Linked DNA regions of Homo sapiens: regions 2 and 3 are each linked to region 1. Evidence: fine-mapped expression QTL. A gene starts in region 1. Each other region holds a variant in brackets. All regions are shown on one strand. Distances are from middle to middle. Region 1 holds the start of ZNF607 (zinc finger protein 607). Region 2 overlaps LOC105372394 (a long non-coding RNA gene). Region 3 overlaps SPINT2 (serine peptidase inhibitor, Kunitz type 2).

What was found. PIP is the estimated chance that this variant, and not a neighbour inherited with it, causes the effect. A credible set is the group of variants that fine-mapping cannot tell apart.
Region 2: its variant is the best candidate, but not a certain one, in a credible set for the expression of ZNF607 in fibroblasts (GTEx, PIP 0.71).
Region 3: its variant is the best candidate, but not a certain one, in a credible set for the expression of ZNF607 in spinal cord (GTEx, PIP 0.85).

Annotation. Positions count from the first base shown.
Region 1 is chr19:37,715,756-37,722,988 of GRCh38, reverse strand. ZNF607 (zinc finger protein 607) reads left to right here and starts at 3,228. Exons shown (of 5, transcript NM_032689.5): 1 at 3,228-3,720. RefSeq lists silencers at 3,467-3,576, 3,637-3,726.
Region 2 is chr19:37,788,679-37,795,911 of GRCh38, reverse strand. LOC105372394 (a long non-coding RNA gene) reads left to right here. Exons shown (of 4, transcript NR_187848.1): 3 at 1,857-1,936; 4 at 2,185-4,722. It also overlaps the pseudogene LOC728533. Among named protein-coding and RNA genes, the nearest start is that of ZNF573, 13 kb to the right of the region's middle. The variant A/G (reference allele first, on the strand shown) is at 3,825.
Region 3 is chr19:38,269,119-38,276,351 of GRCh38, reverse strand. All of the region lies in intron 1 of SPINT2 (serine peptidase inhibitor, Kunitz type 2), which reads right to left. Among named protein-coding and RNA genes, the nearest start is that of SPINT2, 8.2 kb to the right of the region's middle. The variant T/C (reference allele first, on the strand shown) is at 3,295.

The sequences.
Region 1 (7,233 bases):
GCAAGACTGTATCTCAAAAAATTTTAAGAATAATAATAATAACATTATTACTATCTTTCAGAGAAACTAAATATGAGGAAAAAAATGGTTTTACTTCCATTAACTTTAATTCTGACTCTTCATTTCTTGTTTAGATACAAATTTCTGATTCTGTCCTATTCTTTCTCAAGAATTTTCTTTAACATTTCTTATAAAGAAGATCTGCTAACAACAAATGCTCTCAGTTTTTACTTGTTGAAAACTCTGTATTTCTTTTTTATTTCTTTTGGTAACAACTTTGTATATAATTCACATTCCATCCAATTCACTCATTTAAAGTGTAAAATCCAGTAGTTTTTAATGTAGTCACAAAGTTGTGAAACCTTCAACACAGTTTTATAACATTTTCATCACGCCAGCATGAAAGCCTTTAGCCACCATCCCAATTCCTTCTGCCACCGTTCAATTTAGGAAACAATTTACTTTCAGTCTCTATAAATTAGCCCACATTGGAAATTTTATATGAGAAGAAATTTCACATAGAAGGAATCATAAATATGTGGTCTTTTGTACCAGCTTCATTCACTTAGCATAGTGTTCAAGGTTGATCTATGTTGTAGCTTGTATCAGATCTTCATTTCCTTATATTACCAAATAATAGTCCATTGTGTAGATATGCCACATTTTACTTATCTACTTATAAAATGAAGAACAATTGGGTTTTCTTTCCAGTTTTGGCTATCATGAATCATGCTGCTATAAATATCTGTGTACAAGCTTTGTGAGAACATATGGTTTTGTCTTGAGAATATACCTAGGACTAAAATTGCTACATCGTATGGTAACTCTACATTCTTCTGAGGAACTGCCAGACTGTTTATACAGTAGTTCTACCATTTTCCAGTGACACCATCAATGTATATAGGGTTCTATTTATCCAAATCCTATCCAAAATTTGTTATTGTATATTTATTTGATTTTAGTCATCCTAAGTAGTATATCTCATTGGGGTTTTGGGGTTTTGATTTACATAGTCTTTTTCTTTGTTTCCCAGGCTGGTTTCGAACTCCTAGGCTCAAGCAATCCTCCTGCCTCGACCTCCCAAAGTGCTGAGATTACAGGCATGAGCCACTGCTCCTGGCTGATTTGCATATTCTTAATGATTAATATAGAACATGTTTTCAAGTATTTAGTAGCCATGTGTATACTTTTTTTTTTTTTTTGAGAAATGCTTATTCAGTTACTTTGCCCATTTTTGTTGGGCTTTTTATTATTGAGTTGCAAGACTTCTTTATATATTCTAGATACAAATCCCTTATTGGATACATAATTTACAAACAATTTTTCTCACTCTTTGGGTAGCTTCTCACATTCTTGGTGGGTTTTGAAGCACAATGTTTTACAATTTATGTCCAATTTCCTTTTTTGATGTTGTTGCTTGTGATTCTGATGTCACGGTTAAGAAACAATTGCTGACTATAAAGTCCAGAAGATTTATGCCTACATTTCCTTCTAAATGTTCTACTGTTTTAAGTCTTACACCTAGGTGTTTGATCCATTTTGAGTTGATTTTGTATATGGTGAGAGGCAGGGAACTCAATTCATTCCTTTCTATGTGCATCTCTAATTCCAGTCTTTTCAACAAAGACTACTCTTCCCTTCCTTAAAATGCCTTGGTATCCTTGTTGAAAATAGTATGTGGAGCCGGGCGCAGTAGCTCATGCCTATAATCCCAGCACTTTGGGAGGCCAAGGCGGGCAGATCATCTGAGGTTGGGAGTTCGAGACCAGCCTGACCAACATGGTAAAACCCTGTCTCTACTAAAAATACAAAATTAGCTGGGCATGGTGATGCATGCCTGTAATTCCAGCTACTCAGGAGGCTGAGGCAGGAAAATCGCTTGAACCTGGGAGGTGGAGGTTGCAGTGAGCCAAGATCGTGCCATTGCACTCCAGCCTGGGCAACTAGAGCAAAACTCCGTCTCAAAAAGAGAAAAAAGAAAAAGAAAATAATATGTGGAGTCAATTTAATCCATTGATCTATGTGTGGTATTTCTGAGAGATTATTCAGGAGATTCAGGAGCAACAAATCCAAGAACTAATTAAGAGAAGAAAAAGTGATCAATAAGTTCTTAAATTGTAACTTTAATAGTTTTTTTTCCTTGACTATTTGTATTTTTGAATGGTGATTTTTTAGTTTTGTTCCTTTTCCTCTTAGGGTATAGACAAATATTTTTTATTTTTAAATTAATTTTACTTATTTATTTTTTGAGACAAGGTCTTGCTCTGTTGCTCAGGCCAGAGTGCGGTGACACCATCATACCTCACTGAAGCCTGAACTTCCGGGCTCAACTGATCCTCCTACCTTTGTCTTTGGAATAGCTGGGCCCACAGGCGTGTGCCACCACACCAGGCTAACTTTCATTTTTGGTAGAGTTTGGGAGGAGGAGAGGGGTGTCTCACTATGTTTCTTAGGCTGGTTTTGAACTTCTGGCCTCAACTGATCCTCCTGCCTTGGCCTCCGAAAATGCTGGGATTAAAGGCGTGAGCCACCGTGCCCAGCCTGTATTCATCAATATTTTATTAAGCCAAAGAAACAGGAAATTCGGACTATTAAATATTTGTCCGTTTTAGCTGTTGTAAATATTTCCCCCAAATTTACTTACCTAAAAATTTTTCTTATTCGTTTTTTACCATTTGGAAATTTTGGATGCTTCTAAATAACTATGAAGATTTACAAAGTATTACATGAAGGATCAAAAAAATTTTTTAAATTTCTTATTTTATCTTCAAGAAGCCTATTCCAGAACAAAAATAATAAAACTATTTAGCAGTTATTTCTTCAGATGATTTTTTAGTCAAATTTTTAGTCAAATATATTCGTGTCCAAAGATGAAGAACATAATGTCATGTATTGAAGAATGTGATGGAACTTCAAACCCTCATATAGGACGTGAGTCCATTTACTTAGCGCTTGACGAGACAAGCTGGGCCTGTCGGGTGGTATTAAAAGTCCCAGTCCCATGTGTTACCAAGGAGGCCGGCTCTACCTCAGGAGCCATGAGGGTTTCGGCGCCCCACCCTGAGGAGCTCACACCCATCCAGCAGGTGATCCCTTCCGAGGCTACCTGGATCAGTTTCTACTCAGACTCGCCTCCTACTGGCCCTAAGAACGCACTAACTCCACCCTAAGCCTCAGGCCAGGGGCCCAGTAGTGGCCGATCTGCGCATGCGCACTCGAGGCAAGGCGGCCACTCCCAGAAGTCTCCGGGGCTCGAGCGGTGGGTGGGAGGCGCGGTCCAAGTGGTCGCTGCCGTATTTCTCGTAGGTTTTTAGGATTCTGGACTCCATTTCTCACCGGTACCTGCGGTCCTGACTGTTCTGGCTTGGACTACATATTACAAAGGCAACGGAGAAAACTTGGACCCCTGGCTCCGGTTCCGGGACCTTTTGGTTCCACCTGAAGAAGGCGGCGCAGGTCACTGCGGGAGCCTCTGCAGCCCCAGCCCGCCGCCCGCGTGGTACCCTGCGTGGCGGTGAGAGTGGGGCTGCAGGAGGCGCTCAGAGCGCGGAGGCCCCCAGGCGGGCCGGGCGAGTCTCCCGCCTCCTCAGGCCCTAGGGTGCTGGAGCTGCGGAGGAGGGGCCCGTCTCTAGGAGACAGGCGGGGAGCGTGAGAGACCGCGCAGCGGCGACAGGACCGGCTTGCCTGTGTGACGTGGGTGCAGTTGCGGGACTGTGAGGGGTGCGTAGTCGACCTTGTGTGACCTGTACATGCCGTGTGTGTCCTTTGTAAAGCGTGCTTCGCTGGGCTCTGTGGGGTCTATTGACCCTTGGCTCCAGGTTCCCTGCTGCTTCCTGTGCCTTCCTCAGCCTAGTACGACTACAACAGAGAAATGGTCCCAATGGGAAATCAGATACTGAGTCTTAGATGAAGATTTCCAGTGAGAAGAAACAGATAGGATGAGAAGCTTAGAAGAGTAATTGCCCTTAAGAAAGGTATGATAGATTCTGTTAAATAAAAAAGTATTCAGTGACACTTGTTAAAGCATGCAAAGAACCCTTTATTCAGGACCATGGTGGTAGGTATTGGGATCCCGGCTGTGAGATTTTGCAGTGGGTAACAGACATTGGGCTCAACTCCGAATTCAGCATGAACAAGTGGGAATTTATAGCCAAGAAGGTTAGGGATCACTGGATGAGAAATTACTAAGAGGAAATGTCTGGGTTAAGGAAGATTCTGACTAAACGCACCTAACAGGATTATTTCTGGAGAGAGAGACCTGGGGGACGGTGGAGGATGAAGATACGGAGGCGAAAGGGTCTTGCTAAACTGACTTAGAATAGTTCTTTGCTATAGCCAGATTTTACAGTGAAGTGTACAGATGGGCCTAGCTGAAGGTGTAGTAGCCTGACTAAAATTTGGTCTGGCAGGGTTTGTCAGTTTCGAGTGTAGGATTCCCTCCTGAAAAGGGTTGTTACTCCGCCCCCACCTCCCGGTTCTTGGAGTTTCATTTACATGTTTAACAAACACGGCCTTGAATTCTGACCCCAAGAACCTGCAGTGAAGGATGATTGCAGGTTCCATCCAACATACTTCCTTCTGGTCGTGTGTATGAAATTACGCGCCTGCAGCCTTGGAGGGGGGAAACATAAGCGCTAAGTATTATGAGGCAATTTTGGATATTCCGTTTTGGATTTCTGTAGATCAAAAGCAACAAGAATATGAACTTAGCCGTGATGTGAAGGAAGTGAGCCAGAATTTAAGTTTTCCAAAATAGGAATTCTCGGTCATTGGTGTACTGTCTGTAGACCAATGCCCTTATGGGCATAAGGGACATCACAAACCCCCTGAAATTCTATAAAGAATTCCTGTACATGTTTGTTAATTTGCATTTTTCTAGGATGTCCATAATCCAAATTATTTAGACTCAGGTTTTAGATCTGGAATCAAAGAGTTTTATACCTTTGAATGGTTTTGCAGAAAACTAATGAACGAGATTATGGGAATGGTTAAGAAAATTATACAGCGTCCAAGGGATTGGATATTATACAAATAATAAGATTTATGTTTGTAAAGAATCTGTCACAGGATAAATAGCTGTGATCTAATGTTTAACACTATTTAGAGTTACAGTGGTGGATCACAGTTCTCAAACTATATATGCAACTCTTTTTCTTTCTTTTTTTTTTTTTTTTTTTTTTTTGAGACTGAGTTCCGCTCTTGTTGCCCAGGCTGGAGTGCAATGGTGCGATCTCTGCTCACTGCAACCTCCGCCTCCCGGGTTCAAGCGATTCTCCTGCCTCAGCCACCTGAGTAGCTGAGATTACAAGCATGGGCCACCATGCCTGGCTATTTTTTTTTTTTTTTTGTATTTTTAGTAGAGACGGGGTTTCTCCATGTGGGTCAGGCTGGTCTTGAACTCCCAACCTCAGGTGATCCACCCACCTTGGCCTCCCAAAGTGTTGGGATTACAGGCGTGAGCCACCACGCCCAGCCGCAGCTCATTTTTTAAAAATGGAATTTTGGGCCTGGCACAGTGGCTTCCGCCTGTAATCCCAGCACTTTGGGAGGCCGAGGCGGGCAGATCATGAGGTCAGGAGATTGAGACCATCCTGGCTAACATGGTGAAACCCCGTCTCTACTAAAAATACAAAAAATTAGCCGGGCGTGGTGGTGGGCGCCTGTAGTCCCAGCTAGTCGGGAGACTGAGGCAGGAGAATGGTGTGAACCTGGGAGGCGGACCTTGCAGTGAGCCGAGATCGAGCCACTGCACGCCAGCCTGGGCGACAGCGCGAGACTCCGTCTCAAAAAAATAAAATTTAAAATTAAAATTAAACAAAGGGAATTTTGCAAAAACTTTTGCAAGGATTGTATCCAAAATGATTATTTAATTGGTTTTTCAGAGAGGAATGAAAGGGTTGTGGCTACATTTACTGAGCATATAATGTGTGCCCCAAATTATTGGACCTATTTTGTGTACCTGTTCCCATTAGATGTGCAGAAGCCATTTCCCTGTCCACTAAGGAAAGAATCTTTATAGTGAATTGTTTCTAGTTATGTAGAAGAAACACAGCTAAAGGCTGTTCAAGAAGACAAAGAGTTACATGTTTTAGTCACGCTGATTTTTCATTCTAGGCCTAATATTTAGATTTCTTTTAATGACACATGTACCCTCTCCCCATAAGGATACTTTTAGAAATAGTTTATTACTACTTTGAAATATCTTGAAGTTATATTTATGATGATGGAATTAAGGCAGTTTCGTCACAAAAATTTCACTCCCTAAGATAGTTTCAAAGAAGAAATTTAGAATAACCCAAACCTCCCTGCCCAGAGAGAATCACTTTACAAATTTGGGTGTATATGTTTTCAGTTTTCATGTGTGAGCACTTGTGTGTGGTTTTGTCTTTACAGAAGAGAATTAATGAAATAGACAGACTCCTACTTTTAGTTAGAAAAAGGAATCTAACCCAACCATGGATATAAAACCAGTATGATGAGACACCATTACTTTGGACTGAGCTTCTGCACTAGGCTCCAACAGACCAGACTAAACCAAAATGAAGTCACTCATGCTAAAAGCCACATTACAAAACTGAAACTTTAAGGGAGCAGGTAGAGTTCCAAACAGATCAGTTTTTCCTGAAAACAGGAGACTCCAGTCTACCTGAGTCAGCATAATAAGGAAATGACCTCCGCTTAACCTTCCAGAAAAAAGTAAACTGAAGTAGCCTGATAGTCACCAATCAATTTTTTTTTCTATAGTTCTCTTATTTGTTTCCACCTTACAAAATCCACTGTTTCTCCATTGCTCAGTAGGAGCTCTTACGCTATTTTGTACAATGGAGGCTACCCCTTTCATGAATCACAAAGCCCATTAGATCTGTAAGTCAATGTGTTGCAACTAGGTCTTTTGACATGGGCTTTCATATATCTCTGCATTTTAAGAGGAGAGGGAGCTACCAGGGACCTCCTTCAGAGGTGAAAAACAATCCAAGTTTTTATACCTTTTAGGTATTAAAAATGCGATTTAAAACTTAACAGGGCACAAATGATGAAGACATCCTCTCAGAATTAGTAGTTTAGAAATGCAAAGTTACTGCAGAGAAAAGCATGGTAATCTATGATTTCCAGATGTCTTGCAAGTATGGTAATATTTCCAAAGATAGTTCAGTAATAATAACAAATAGGTATTGTGATATTTACAAATACTCACATAAATGTTTGTATTTGGCAGGAAAATAAGATTCACTC
Region 2 (7,233 bases), 73 kb before region 1:
TGACTTTAGATCTCATGGGCTTTTATTTGGGATTCACAAACGGGGCAGCCTCCATTGTATAAAATAGAATGAGAGCCCTTGCCCAATGCAGTGGGTTTTGTGTAAGGTGGGAACAAATAACAGAACTAGAGAAAAAAGAACTGAGGCCTGGTGACGGACGTCTGTAGTCCCAGCTACTTGGGAGGCTGAGGCGGGAGGAACGCTTGAGCCCGGGAGTTTGAAGCTGCAGTGAGCCATAACCACTCCACTGCATTCTAACCTGGGTGACAGAGTGAGACCCTGTCTTTAAAAAAAAGTTTTTTAAATTAAAAATAAGAAAGGAGTGGTGAACATCAATTATTTAGACTGGAATCTCTTGTTTTCAGGAAAAACAGGTTTTTTTTGAGATTTATCTGCTCCCTTAAAGTTTCAGTTTGATAATGTGGCATTTAGCATGAGTGACTTCATTTTGGTTTGGTGTGGTCTGTTGGAGCCTAGTGCAGAAGCTCAGTCCAAAGCAATACCATACCATAATTTTGGTTTAACAGCAACAATTGAGGTAGATTCCATTTTCGAACTAACAGTTGGAGTCTTTGTGTCTCTATTAATTCTCTTCTGCAATGACAAAACTACACACAAATGTTCATACATGAAAATTAGAAACACATACACCAAAATATGTAAAGTGATTTTCTCTGGGCAGGGGGGATTTGGGGTTATTCTTTCTTCTTCATAACTTCCTTAGGTAATGAAATTTTTGCAATGAGCCTGCCTTAATTCCATCATTACAAATAGAACATCAATACATTCCAAAGCATTAAACTTTTTAGAAGAGGGTACATTTTTGTCATGAAAAGAAACCTAAGTACTAGGACTAGAATTAAAAAGTATCAACGTGTCATGTAACATGTGTCCTCTTGAATAGCCTTTAGCTGTGCCACTTCTACATAATTAGAAACATTTCACTATTAAGATTCTTCCCTTAATGAACAGGGAAATGGTCTTTGCGCATTAAATGAGAAAAGATACAGAAAACAGACCACATGATTTGGGTACACATTAGATGTTCAATAAATGTGGCCTCTCCCCTTCTATTCTTCTCTGAAAAACCAATTGAATGGTCATATTAGATACAATCCTTGCAAAAGGTTTTGGAAACTTCCATTTTTAAAAAATGGGATGCATATACAGTTTTTGAGAACTGTGATCTACAACTGTGAATACTGTTTAAGGTTAGATCACAGTCATTTTTCCGTTAATGACAAATTCTTATTATTTTTTGTTTCCCTGATATCTGGTATGCAGCTAATAACAAATTCTTTATAAACATAAATTTTATTATCAGTATAATGTCCAATCCCATGGATGTTGTATGATTTTCTTAACCATTCTCATAATCTTGATCATTAGTTTTCTGCAAAACCATTCAAAGGTATAACACTCTGATTCCAGGTCTAAAGCTCAAGTCTAAATAATTTGGAAGATGGAACCCTGGAAAAATGCAAATTAACAAACATGTATATAAAGTTTCAGGGGGATTGTGGTGCCCTGTATGCCCGTAAAAACAGACAATGGACCCAATGACTAAGAATTCCTATTTTGGGGCACTTAAATTTCCGGCTCACTTCCTTCATTTGCACGAACACATCACAACTGAGTTCATATTCCTATTGCTTTTGATCTACAGAAATCCAAAACGGAACGATCCAAAAACTCCTCGAAATAGTGTTTCTGTTTCCCCCTCCAAGGCTACAGGTGCATAATTTCATACACATAACCAGAAGGAAGTATGGTAGGTGAAATCTCTAGTCATCCTTCACTGCAGGTTCTTAGAGTCAGAATTCAAGAAGGCCGTGATTCTTTTTTTTTTTTTCCAGGATCTTTAACTTTATTAGCAGCTACTGAGCTACAGAATACAAACCAACTGAAAACATTAAAGAAAGGCTTCCTGAAACAGGTATGTACAGGTATACTACACAGAAGCAAAAGCTGTATAATCCAATCCCAAAGCCACCCCTGTGGGGAAGGATGACCTTAGCTATGGGCCAAAGGAGTATAGAAGTTATGACATAAGAGTCCCATCCATCCAGGAAAGCAGTGGACAACTACAGCCACATTTGCACCAAAAATTTATCTGAGATTAGTTTTAAAGTTTCCATGAATCAAAGTTTTCAAATGAAAACAGGTACCCCTTTTTTCCTGTAGGCTTTCCAGCTCACTACCCAAAAGACTTGAGTACTTCTATTAAGGCAGCTGGAAGCCCACCCTAGACTTCAATGGCAATTTGTCCTTTCTCTGCCAGTAAGGCAATCCAACACAATATGCTACAGGAAAAACAGAATTTCCATGGTGCTGCCCTCTGGTACAAGGGAAACAGCACTCAGAGCAAAAGGCCACAGAGGACTCCCTGAGAATCCAGTACAACTAAGCGAGGCCTTAAACTGTCGAGACAAACTTTGCAACTGGATCCCGGTGGGACAGTGCCCTGCGGCGAGGAGTAGTGTATATGCCAATGAGAGGGCCCAGCTTCCAGGAACCGTTACAATGGCGTCCTGAGTCATTTTCTCTCTCCCACTTGCATTCGAGTGCGAAAACACACACCGTGGCCTTGATTCTCACTCACCACAATCCCCCTGTACAGAGGGGTTTGTTTCTAAGTCTGGAACCTCAACACGAGGCTGGGATGCTTCACGACGTGCTCTCTCCCACTGTCCAGCCATCTTTGGTGGTCTCCCCATAGTGCTTTCCCATCCTCTTATGCTCCTGTGGAGGGACCATGGGACGGGCCAGGAGGAAACCTGGGATCACTCTGACAGAAAAGGGACAAGCACAGCTGCCAGGAGCCAGTTGCTCCAGCCTCAGTCTCCGGTTGTTAGTCTCAGGATCAACAGAGAACTGGAAAGCAGCAGAATCTGGAGGAGCAGGCAGAGAGCCCAGAGGAGGAGTGTTGTGCTCAGTGACGGTTAACAGATGAAAAGGAATTTCATGGAGATTCTTTGTTACAAGGAGAAATTGCTCAGTCTCAACTCCCAGAATATGAAAGTTGCCTGGTTTAAGAGACCTATATTTTCTTTTTCAGCTCTTCAAACCTCTGGGAAAGATCATCAAAGTCAATGTCTTCAGATGCTGAGGTGCTGGCACCAGCAAATGCAGTTGGTAGTGTGTCTGGCACAGATGGCAACTCTGGTAGGACAAAGTTGTCATAGTTATCCGCAGGTCAGGAAGGAAGCTTTGCAGAGGCTTCTGGCTTGGGTCCAGGACCAACAATCTGTGCAGAAGAGATATTCTTATCAGCATTAATGTCATCTACAGATTCATATGATGGGGGAGTTGCTGGTATCTGAGATGGATAAATATTGGGAAAGGCCTGGTAAGTCCCCATTGGCAGTCCATTGAAATCTGATGGTCCCTTTGGCAGTGGATATGAGAAAGGAGTATTTGCAGATAGCATGGGCATAGGCATGGGCATTGGCACCATTCCATCAGGTCCACCAACTGGTGCTGTGAACCCACCACCCCCTCCTCTTCCAGGGCCTCCTTTCTTCACATCATCTGTGAATCCAACATCAATAAGATCTGTCTCTACCCCAGAAGGAGCTTCTGCCATGACCACAGAGTCAGGTTCATAGGGTACATTGTAATTCTTCGCAATTTCAATCAGGTATCTCTCCACCAGGATTTTGGATGGGGCTTCCACACTCAGATTGTGCATTAGCCTGTCATTCACAGTTCCAATCTGGTTGGTCCTACATAGCTTGCCATATTACTTGCTATACTTGGCACAGAGCTGATCAGCAACTATTTTCAACTCAGCCACTTCTGACTGGAGTCGAGGAGCAGCCCAG[A/G]TCAATGTAGACACAGATTCAGCCAGACCAGAATCTAGTTCCTTCATAGACTGGATAAGGCCAAACCGAGCCAGCAGCAGATCACAGTACAGCTCCAGGATCTCCATGGCCTCCACGAAGTAGTCTTCCCGGATAATGTGCTCCACACGGATCCGAGCTCGTTCATCTTTCCCAGCAGCCAGATAGTCAGCAATCTCCTTCCTTGCTTTCTGGGCCAGTTCTGTTTTTTTTTTTTTTCCTCCAATAGTTCAAGGCGATTTATGACTAATCTCAAATTCACTCTTAAGTGCTCAGCTTTAAATCCAGAGCCCAGCATGCTGTGCTGTTCCTCCTAACCGAATCCTGCCATGAACACAGCAGACACCGACTTCAGAATCAGGGTTCACCATCCACGTGATTCTTAAACACGTAAATGAAACTCCAAGAACCGGGAGATGGGGGCGGAGTGTACAACCCTTCCAGGAAGGAATCCTACACAAACCCTGCGTGACCAAACTTTACTCAGGCTCTTACACCTTCCCCTGGGCCCATCTGTACACTTCATTATAAAATCCAACAATAACAAAGGCCCCTTTTAAGTCAGTTTAGCAAGAACCCTCTGCCCCCCATCTTCATCCTCCACTATCCCCCAGGCGATGATGTCTTATCATCCAGGTCTCTCTCTTCAGAAAGAATCCCAACAGGTGCGTTTAGCCAGAATCCTACTTATCCCAGACATTTCCTCTTAGTATTTTGTCATCCAGTGATCCCTAACCTGCTCCTTGACTATAAATTCCTACTCGTTCATGCTGAATTTGGAGTTGAACCCAATCTCTTGTACCCATTGCAAAATCTCACTGCTGTGCTTCCAATACCTATCACGATGATCCTGAATAAAGTCTTCCTTTGCATGCTTTAACGAGTGTTAAAGACTGAATATTTTTTCTTTAAAAGAGTCTATCACACCGTCTTAAGGGAATTCCTGCTCTAAGCTTCCCATCCTATCCGTTTCTTCTCACTGGAAAACTTCATCTAAGGCTCAGTATCTGATTTTGCGCTTAGATCATTTCTCTGTGGCAGTCATACGAGGCTGAGAGGAGACAGGGAAACTGAGACCCTGACCCACGGGTCAGTGACACCACAGAGTTATAGCAAAGCACGCTTTCAAAGGACACTCACGCTATGTCCCGGTCACACAACACATTCACGCACCCTTCTCAGTCTCCACGTCACAAAGGAGACGTTCTCCACCTGTCTCCCTAGAGATGAGCCCCTTCCTTCGCAGCTCCAGCACCCCAAGGCCTGAGTAGGTGGGAGACAAGTCCGGCCCGCGCCCGAGGCCTCCGCGCTCTGAGTGCCTCCTGCAGCTCCACTCTCACCGCCACCCAGGGTCCCGCGCGGGCTGCGGGCTGGGGCTGCAGAAGCTCCGGCAGCGACCCGCGCCGCCTTCTTCCTCAGGTGGGACCAGGTCACGGGCAGCGCAGAGGTCCAGGAGACGGAGCCAGAGGTACAAGATTTCTCCGTCGCCCGTGGAATATGTAGTCCAAGACGGAACAGTCAGGACCGCAGGCAACCCTGAGAAGTGGAGTCCAGAGTCCTAAAAACCTACAGGAAATACGGATGTGACCACGAGGACCGCGCGCCCCGCCCACCGCGCGAGCCTGGGACACCTCTGGGAGTGGCCACCTGGCCTAGGAGTACGCAAGCGCAGATCAGACAAATGCTGGGGCCCCCGACCTGAGGCTAAGGGTGGAGTCGCTGCGTTCTCAGCGCCAGTAGGAGGCGAGTCTGGGTGGAACCTGACTCGGGTAAAAGAAAAGGGTTAGGTAAATGGACTCAGGTCCTATAGGAGTGACTTAAGTCCCACCACATTCTTCAATACATTATGTTCTTCACCTTTGGACACGAATACATATGATTAAAAATTTTATTTAAAAACATCCAAAGAAATAAATACTTTCATTATTTTTGTTTTGGAATAGGCTTGTTTGCTTGTTTGTTTGTTTTAGGGACGGAGTCTCACTCTGTTCCACAGGCTGGAGTGCAATGGCGCGATCTCGGCTCACTGCAACCTCTGCCTCCCGAGTTCAAGTGATTCTCGTGCTTCAGCCTTCCAAGTAGCCGGGATTACAGGCATCCGCCACCACACCTGGCTAATTTTTGTATTTTTAGTAGAGATGGGGTTTCACCATGTTGGCCAGGCTGGTCTCGAACTCCTGACCTCAGGTGATCCGCCCACCTCGGCCTCCGAAAGTGCTGGGATTACAGGCGTGAGCCACCGTGCCCGGCTGGCCTGGAATAGGATTTTTTTTTTTTTTATGGAGTCTCGCTTTGTTGCCCAGGCTGGAGTGCAGTGGCGCGATCTCAGCTCACTGCAACCTCTGCCTCCCGGGTTCTGCCTCCCGGGTTCACGCCATTCTTCTGCCTCAGCCTCCCGAGTAGCTGGGATTACAGGCGCCCGCCACCACGCCTGGCTAATTTTTTTTTTTTTTCTGGTATTTTTAGTAGAGACAGGGTTTCATCATGTTAGGCAGGATGGTCTCGATCTCCTGACCTCATGATCCGCCCACCTCGGCCTCCCAAAGTGCTAGGATTACAGGCGTGAGCCACCGCACCCGGCCATCTTCTTCTTCTTCTTCTTCTTTTTTTTTTTTTTTTTTTTTTTTGACACGGAGTCTCCCTCTGTCGCCAGGCTAGGGTGCAGTGGCGTGATCTCGGCTCACTGCAACCTGCGACTCCCTGGTTCAAGCCATTCTCCAGCCTCAGCCTCCCGAGTAGCTGGGACTACAGGCGCGCGCCACCACGCCCAGCTAATTTTTGTATTTTTAGTAGAGACGGGGTTTCACCATGTTGACCACGATAGTCTTGATCTCTTGACCTCATCATCCCCCGGCCTCAGCCTCCCAAAATGCAGGTATTGTAGGCGTGAGCCACAGCCCCCGGCCTGGAATAGGCTTCCTAAACGTAACAAAGGGAAAAAATATTTTTTAAAATTTAGAACCTTGATATGGTAATTATTTATCTTGGTAGATATCTATAAACATTCCATATATCTGAATGGTAAAAAAAAAAAACAGTTTAAACAAAACAAAACGAAAAAAACCTTTTTACTTCCCAGGCTGAAGTGCAGTGGTGCGATCTCAGCTCATGCAACCTCCGCCTCCTGGGCTCAAGGGATTCTCCTGCCTCAGCCTCCCGAGTAGCTGGGACTACAGGCATGCGCCACCGTGCCCGGCTTTTTTTTTTTTTTTTTTTTTTTTGAGACAGAGTTGCGCTCTTGCTTCCCAGGCTGGAGTGCAATGGCGCAATCTCAGTTTACCGCAACCTCTGCCTCCGGGGTTCAAGCTATTCTCCTGCCTCTGCCTCCCAAGTAGCTGGGATTACAGGCATGCGCCACCACGCCTGGATAATTTTTTTTTTTTTTTTTTTT
Region 3 (7,233 bases), 550 kb before region 1:
GCTTATTTTTAAAACAAGCAAAAATAACTCCTAGGGTTCTAGTTATTGACAGACTCCCATGAGTGCTATGAGCTGAGGCACAAGAGCTTCTTGCCTCACCACGTGCAGGACAGGAAAGCCCAAAGCCACTCCTGAAATGCTTCTCCTCCTCCTCCTCCCACCCATCTGTTTTTTCTAGAACAAGGGTCTGCAAATGTTTTCTATAAGGGGCCAAATACTGAATACAAGCAGCAATTGGCCTGCCCGTCAGTGTGTGATCACACAAAGCAATCTCATAATCAGTGGGAAAAATGATACTGCTCAATGACATTTAAAAATTTTTGTCAGCTGGGCGTGGTGGCTCACACCTGTAATCCCAGCACTTTGGGAGGCCGAGGCAGGTGGATCACTTGAGGTCAGGAGTTCGAGACCAGCCTGACCAATATGGAGAAACCCCGTCTGTACTAAAAATACAAAATTAGCCGGGCGTGGTGGTGCATGCCTGTAATCCCAGCTATTCTGGAGGCTGAGGCAGGAGAATCGTTTGAACCCAGGAGGCACAGGTTGCAGTGAGCTGATCCATTGCACTCCAGCCTGGGCAACAAGAGTGAAACTTCATCTCTCAAAAAAAAAAAAAAATTTTTTTGTCAAGCTGGGCATGGTGGCTCATACCTATAATCCCAGCACTTTGGGAGGCCGAGGCAGGAGGATCATTTGAGGTCACGAGTTCAAGACCAGCCTGGGCAACATAGTGAGACCCTGTCTCTACAAAAAATAAAAAAATTTTTTTGGCCAGATACAGTGGCTCACACCTGTGGTCAGGATTTCAAGACCACCCTGGCTATCATGGCGAAACCCCATCTCTACTAAAAATATAAAACTTAGCCCGGCACAGTGGCGCGCGCCTGTAGTCCCAGCTACTCGGGAGGCTGAGGCGGGACAATCACTTGAACTCAGGAGGCGGAGGTTGCAGTGAGCTGAGATCGCACCACTGCACTCTAGCCTGGGCGACAGAGCAAGACCCTGTGTCAAAAAAATAAGGAAAGAAAAACTCTATTGGCTATAAATGCACAGAGTAACAAAACAAAACAAAACAAACAAACAGAAAGAATGTTTATTTAGCATACTGTAAGTTAAAACATTGGAAACATTTAGGATTAAAGTGTTAATTTCTGTGCAAAAGAATTTCTAAGGGGAGTTTGAACCGTGCTTGTGGTCTTCTCACCATATAACTTACGATACAGAGCAAGCATCATTTCTACACCTTTTCCAGCAATTGCCAAACACTTTTCTAGATCTGGATCAGCTTTCAACGTTTTATCCTTTGCTCTTTCAATGTCACAAAATTGCTCGCAGAGCTGCTTCACAGAAGAGGCTCTGCCAGTGTTGCTTCCTCTGGGCCACCATCCAGAAAGTCACAACTGCCGCCCTCATTTCCGTGGACAAGAAGCCTTCACAAGCTCCCTGGCTGCAGATCCAGAGTCTCTCCAGTGGCAGAGGGAAGTGCAACACCTCCCGTAAGCTGGTCTACCTCTCCATTTTATGTTTTTTTTTTTTTTTAAGACAGTCTCACTCTGTCGTCCAGGCTGGAATGCAATAGTGCGATCTAGGCTCACTGCAACCTCTGCCTCCCGGGTTCAAGTCATCTCCTGCCTCAGCCTCCTGAGTAGCTAGGACTCCAGGAGTGTACTACCACACCTGGCTACTTTGTGTATTTTCAGTAGATAGGGTTTTGCTGTGCTGGCCAGGCTGGCCTCAAACTCCTAACCTCAAGTGATCTGCCTACCTCGGCCTCCCAAAGTGCTGGGATTACAGGCGTGAGCCACCTTAGCGAAAAACACTGCAGAACACCTTTCCTAAAAACAACTAACATCACTAAAAACAAGTCTCCTCTTTTCATTAAAAACACTTGGAATTCTAAGGATAGTAGCCAAGGAGAAGTTATTTGCTATAAAAATCCCCAGACATGCCACTCCTTAGTATCAAAAAGCAAAGAAAGCTCTGAAGAGTCATTTAATCCAAGAGTTTCAAAGAACTCCATCTCAAAAAAAAAGAAAGAAAAAACATTGTTGTGAAGATTAAAGGAGTTTTTAATCCATTATAATTGCTTAAAATAGTATTTAGCACACAGCTTTCTTTTTTTTTTTGAGACAGGGACTTGCCCTGTCACCCAGGCTGGAGTACAGTGGTACAATCTTGGCTCACAGTAGCCTTGACCTGTGCTCAGTGACCCACCCACCTCAGCCTCCAAGTAGCTGGGACTATAGGCGTGTGCCACCATACCCGGTTAATTTTTGCATTTTTTGTAGAAACGAGGTTTCACCATGTTGCCCAGACTAGTATTGAAGTCCTGGGCTCAAATGATCCACCCGCCTCGGCCTCCTGAAGTGCTGGGATTACAGGCGTGAGCCACCGCACCTGGCCTAGCACAAAACTTTTAACAAATAGTAGATATTGTATCTTTACGATTGTATTTTTTATGAAGACAGGACTAATATAGGGACAGTCAGAATAAAGAGAATGACACATTTCACTACAGAGTCCAACCAAGCATGCTGACGGAGAGGATAAGGAGGAAGAGGATATACAGGGAAGGCCAAAAGTACAACCTCAAGCCAAACCAATGATGTCTTATCTTCACCTGGAGGAAGACAATGGCAAACCACCACACGGGTCAAAGTCCTGCATGGCTACAAGATCAGGATATGCTGGGCTGGGAGGCAGAAAGCCAGAGGGAGGGACTGGTGGAAAAAACAAATACCAAAACAAATGAAGCAACACAAACCCTCCATGCTTTCCACACCTACTTGCACTTGCACTTCAAGCATCTTTTCACCAGGGAATGAATGAGAGCATCTTAAAAAGAGGTACTGAGGCCGGGCACAGTGGCTCATGCCTGTAAGCCCAGCACTCTGGGAGGCCGAGGCAGATCACCTGAAGTCAGGAGTTCAAGAAAACAGGTACTGAATGACAGGAGGTACTGAAGCCTATTTCAATTCTACCAAGCCAGATTCCAAAGGTGACATTTACTGTGTAATCAGCCTTATTTTAAGATGATCTATAAATCTACCTACTTTGGTTAGCTGGCTAGGTTCTATATATTTGAGTGTTTCTGTTTCCAGTACAGAAAGCTACCAACTACCCATCTCCTCTAGGCTTGGGTGTCTGGAAGTTTTCATTATTGAGACAATTCAGAACCTTTCAAAAAAAAACCTCAGGTATTTATGAGGAAAGAACATTTACAATTACAAATCCTACTTAAGTTATGAGGCTCATAAAATCTTGGTGTTTCAGATATAAAATCTTGGTATTTTC[T/C]ATATAAAATATTTAGATATAAAAGTTTACATTTCAGGCCGGGCACGGTGGCTCACGCCTGTAACCCCAGCACTCTGGGAGGCTGAGGCAGGTGGATCACCTGAGGTCAGGAGTTCAACACCAGCCTGGCCAACATGGTGAAACCCCGTCTCTACTAAAAATACAAAAAAATGAGCCGGGCGTGGTGGTGCATGCTTGTAATCCCAGTTACTCAGGAGGCTGAGGCAGGAGAATCGCTTGAACCCAGAAGGTGGAGGTTGCAGTGAGCCGAGATCGCACCACTGCACTCCAGAGTCTGGGCGACAGAGACTCCATATCAAAAAATAAAAAATTTACATTTCATAACCTATCAGCACAATGCAACTCATCACTACTCATGCCTACCATCACTCCATATTCCACTCTGAAACAAGACTATTAAGTCTACCCTCGCCTCAATCCATAACAAGAACCCGAGCAGTCCATCTGAATAGCTGGGAAGGAAACAATAGTTTCAAATCTTCTAAGAAACTGTCTGCTGTTAATTCGCATTCAGCCATTCTTTACCTTGTGCAAATCATGGACCATTTTCAGAACTGAGGAAAGCTCTTGGACCCTCTCTCTGGAATGGTGTTTCTCAACCTTTTTTCATTACTACCTTCCCCCTAAGACTTTTTGGAAATGTTTTTCCTAATCGCCCCACAAAATTTTAACACCACAGACATACTATATATCTATTCATGTAGAGCGGCCCTTCAAAAGGTCACAAACTATTATAGTATCTTTTTGTTCCCCCACCCCTTTAAGAACATGCCATACACTCTAAATGACAGACCCTGGCATACACATGGACAAACTATCACATATAAAATTGTTTTGAGATGGGGTCTCGCTCTGTCGCCCAGGCTGGAGTGCAATGGTGCGATCTCGGCTCACTGCAACCTCCACTTCCTGGGCTCAAGCAATTCTCCCACCTCAGCCTCCCACATAGCTGGGACTACAGGCTGACTAGTTTTTTGTATTTTTTGTTTCACCATGTTGAAACTCCTCAGTCAAGCAATCCACCTGCCTCAGCCCCCCAAAGTGCTGGGATTACAAGCGTGAGCCATTGTGCCCAGCAGTATCACATAAAAGTGAAGGACTTCAGATTAAGGGACTTCTGAGGCCATGGACCCTGGGCCCAGTCAGGAATCACCCTGAGCTCCATCTCCAACACGTGTGAGTAAAACAACATGTGAATTCTTGCCCTCTTTTTTTTCTGAGATGGAGTCTCACTCTGTCTCCCAGGCTGGACTGCAGTGGCGTGATCTCGGCTCACTGCAACCTCCACCCTCCGAGTTCAAGCGATTCTCCTGCCTCAGCCTCCAGGCGCCTGCCACTGCACCCGGCTAATTTTTTTTTGTATTTTTAGTAGAGATGGGGTTTCAACATCTTGGCCAGGCTGGTCTTGAACTCCTGATCTCGTGATCCACCCACCTCGGCCTCCCAAAGTGCTGGGATTACAGGCATGAGCCACTGTACCCGGCCAAACATGTGGTGGTCTCTTGTAAGTGGCTCCTCTCACTTAGCATAACATTTTTTTTTTTTTTGAGAGAGTCTTGCTCTGTTGCCCAGGCTGGAGTGCAGTGGCATGATCTCAGCTCACTGCAAGCTCCACTTCCTGGGTTCACGCCATTCTCCTGCCTTAGCCTCCCAGATAGCTGGGACTATAGGCGCCCGCCACCACGCGAGGCTAATTTTTTTGTATTTTTAGTAGAAACGGGTTTTCACCGTGTTAGCCAGGATGGTCTCGATCTCCTGATCTCGTGACCCGCCTGCCTCGGCCTCCCAAAGTGCTGGGGTTACAGGCATGAGCCACCGCGCCCGGCCTCGCCCTCATTTCTAAAATGGCTTCTAATCATAAAAAGCATATTTCAAATAAACTTCAAAATAAGTAAACTCTAGCTCCTACTTCACCTGCCAAGGAAAATAAAACAACAAAAAAAGGTAAATAAACTCCAAAGTTCCTGGGCCTCAGCATCAACATCAGCACTTCTTTACAGGGAGTTTTCAAAAAGATGTTGCCAGAAAAAAACCATGAAATGACACTTGTGAGGAGGATCTTGCAGGACATCGGAATCCACACTCTAATGTCCACATTAGTCATGGCCGGTGGGCCAAGGCCTCCTGGGGCTAATGGAGTCATTTCAGTGTGACTCCTGCTGGGCTCTCTCCCGCCTCACATGAGCCACAGGCTTATCACCCCTTATTCAGCCTCCCCTGTAGCCTCCAGACATGGCAAACAGAAGCTCTGCATGCATTCTGCAAATGGCTGGGGATGGGTAAAATGAGAAACAGGGTGGGGAGCAGGGTGAAAGAGGAGAAGTGTGATTTCTCCATTGCAGGCTGAGCTCTCAAATACTGACTGGGCAAAGCAATGTTTCCAGTGGAAAGGGGCCAGTCTCCCGCGGTGACCTGAAGGCAAGGCCCTCAACCTTCTTTAGGAACTGCAACCATTTGAACCTCAGAAGCCCCCATTTTCAGTGCTAAGCACACCAACCCTGACACTCATCACCAGACATACATTCATCTGTTCATTTATTGTACTGTCTTCCTCTCATTATGACACGTCTGCCACGGATGGGGGAGGGGGTCTATTTTGTTCAGTGCTCTAATTTGAGTGAGTCAGTGCCTGGCAATTGGTGGGTGCTCAATAAACATTTGCTGACTATATCAGTGAATAAGATTTCGAACTACCCTGGAACCAAACTGCCTTGCCTGCAAGTAGGACAAGCACTCCTTCTATGGAGGATAAGAATAATGTGAGAAGCTGTTTTAGAGAATTCCCAGCTGATCGCCAACACCAGCTTTACTTTAGCTCTTCTGTCATCTTATCTCTGACCACCAGGGTCACGACTATCCATGGGGGTGAGGAGGAAAGTAAAGAAAGGGTGGCAACTAATAACACGTCTGTGGAGTCTGCTGGAAAGCTTACAGCAGTTAAGGTTCTACAGACACTATAATTAACCTGAGAGGTCCATGCATTTCGAAAATCCCTTGGAAGTGCAGGAGAGGGCTGGGCCACGTGGCTCGAGCCTGTAATCCCAGCACTTTGAGAGGCTGAGGTGGGCAGATCACCTGAGGTCGGGAGTTCGAGACCAGCCTGGCCCACATGTTGAAATCCCATCTCAGGCCGGGCGCGGTGGCTCACGCCTGTAATCCCAGCACTTTGGGAGGCCGAGGCGGGCAGATCACAAGGTCAGGAGATCAAGACCATCCTGGCTAACACGGTGAAACCCCGTCTCTACTAAAAATACAAAAAATTAGCCGGGCGTGGCGGCAGGTGCCTGTAGTCCCAGTACTCGGGAGGCTGAGGCAGGAGAATGGTGTGAACCCAGGAGGCGGAGCTTGCAGTGAGCCGAGAACGCGCCACTGCACTCCGGCCTGGGCGACAGAGCGAGACACTCCGTCTCAAAAAAAAAAAAAAAAAAAGAAAAGAAATCCCATCTCAACTAAAAATACAAAAATTAGCTGGGTGTGGTGGTGCACACCTGTAACCCCAGCTACTCAGGCGGATGAGGCAGGAGAATCACTTGAACCCAGGAGGCAGAGGCTGCAATGAGCCAAGATGGCGCCACTGCACTCCAGTCTGAGTGACACAGCAAGACTCTGTCTCAAAAAAAAAAAAAAAAAAAAAAAGGTGCAGGAGAGGTTCTCAAATAAGTGTTGCCCTGCTTGCCTCCAGTGGAAATTCCCAAGAAGAATCAACAAAGGACCTTGAACCATCCTGGCTAACACGGTGGTGAGACCCTGTCTCTACTAAAAATACAAAAAATTAGCCGGGCGTGGTGGCGGGCGCCTGTAGTCCCAGCTACTCAGGAGGCTGAAGCAGGAGAATGATGTGAACCCGGGAGGTGGAGATTGCAGTGAGCTGAGATCGCGCTACTGCACTCCAGACTGGGCGATGAGAGAGACTCCGTC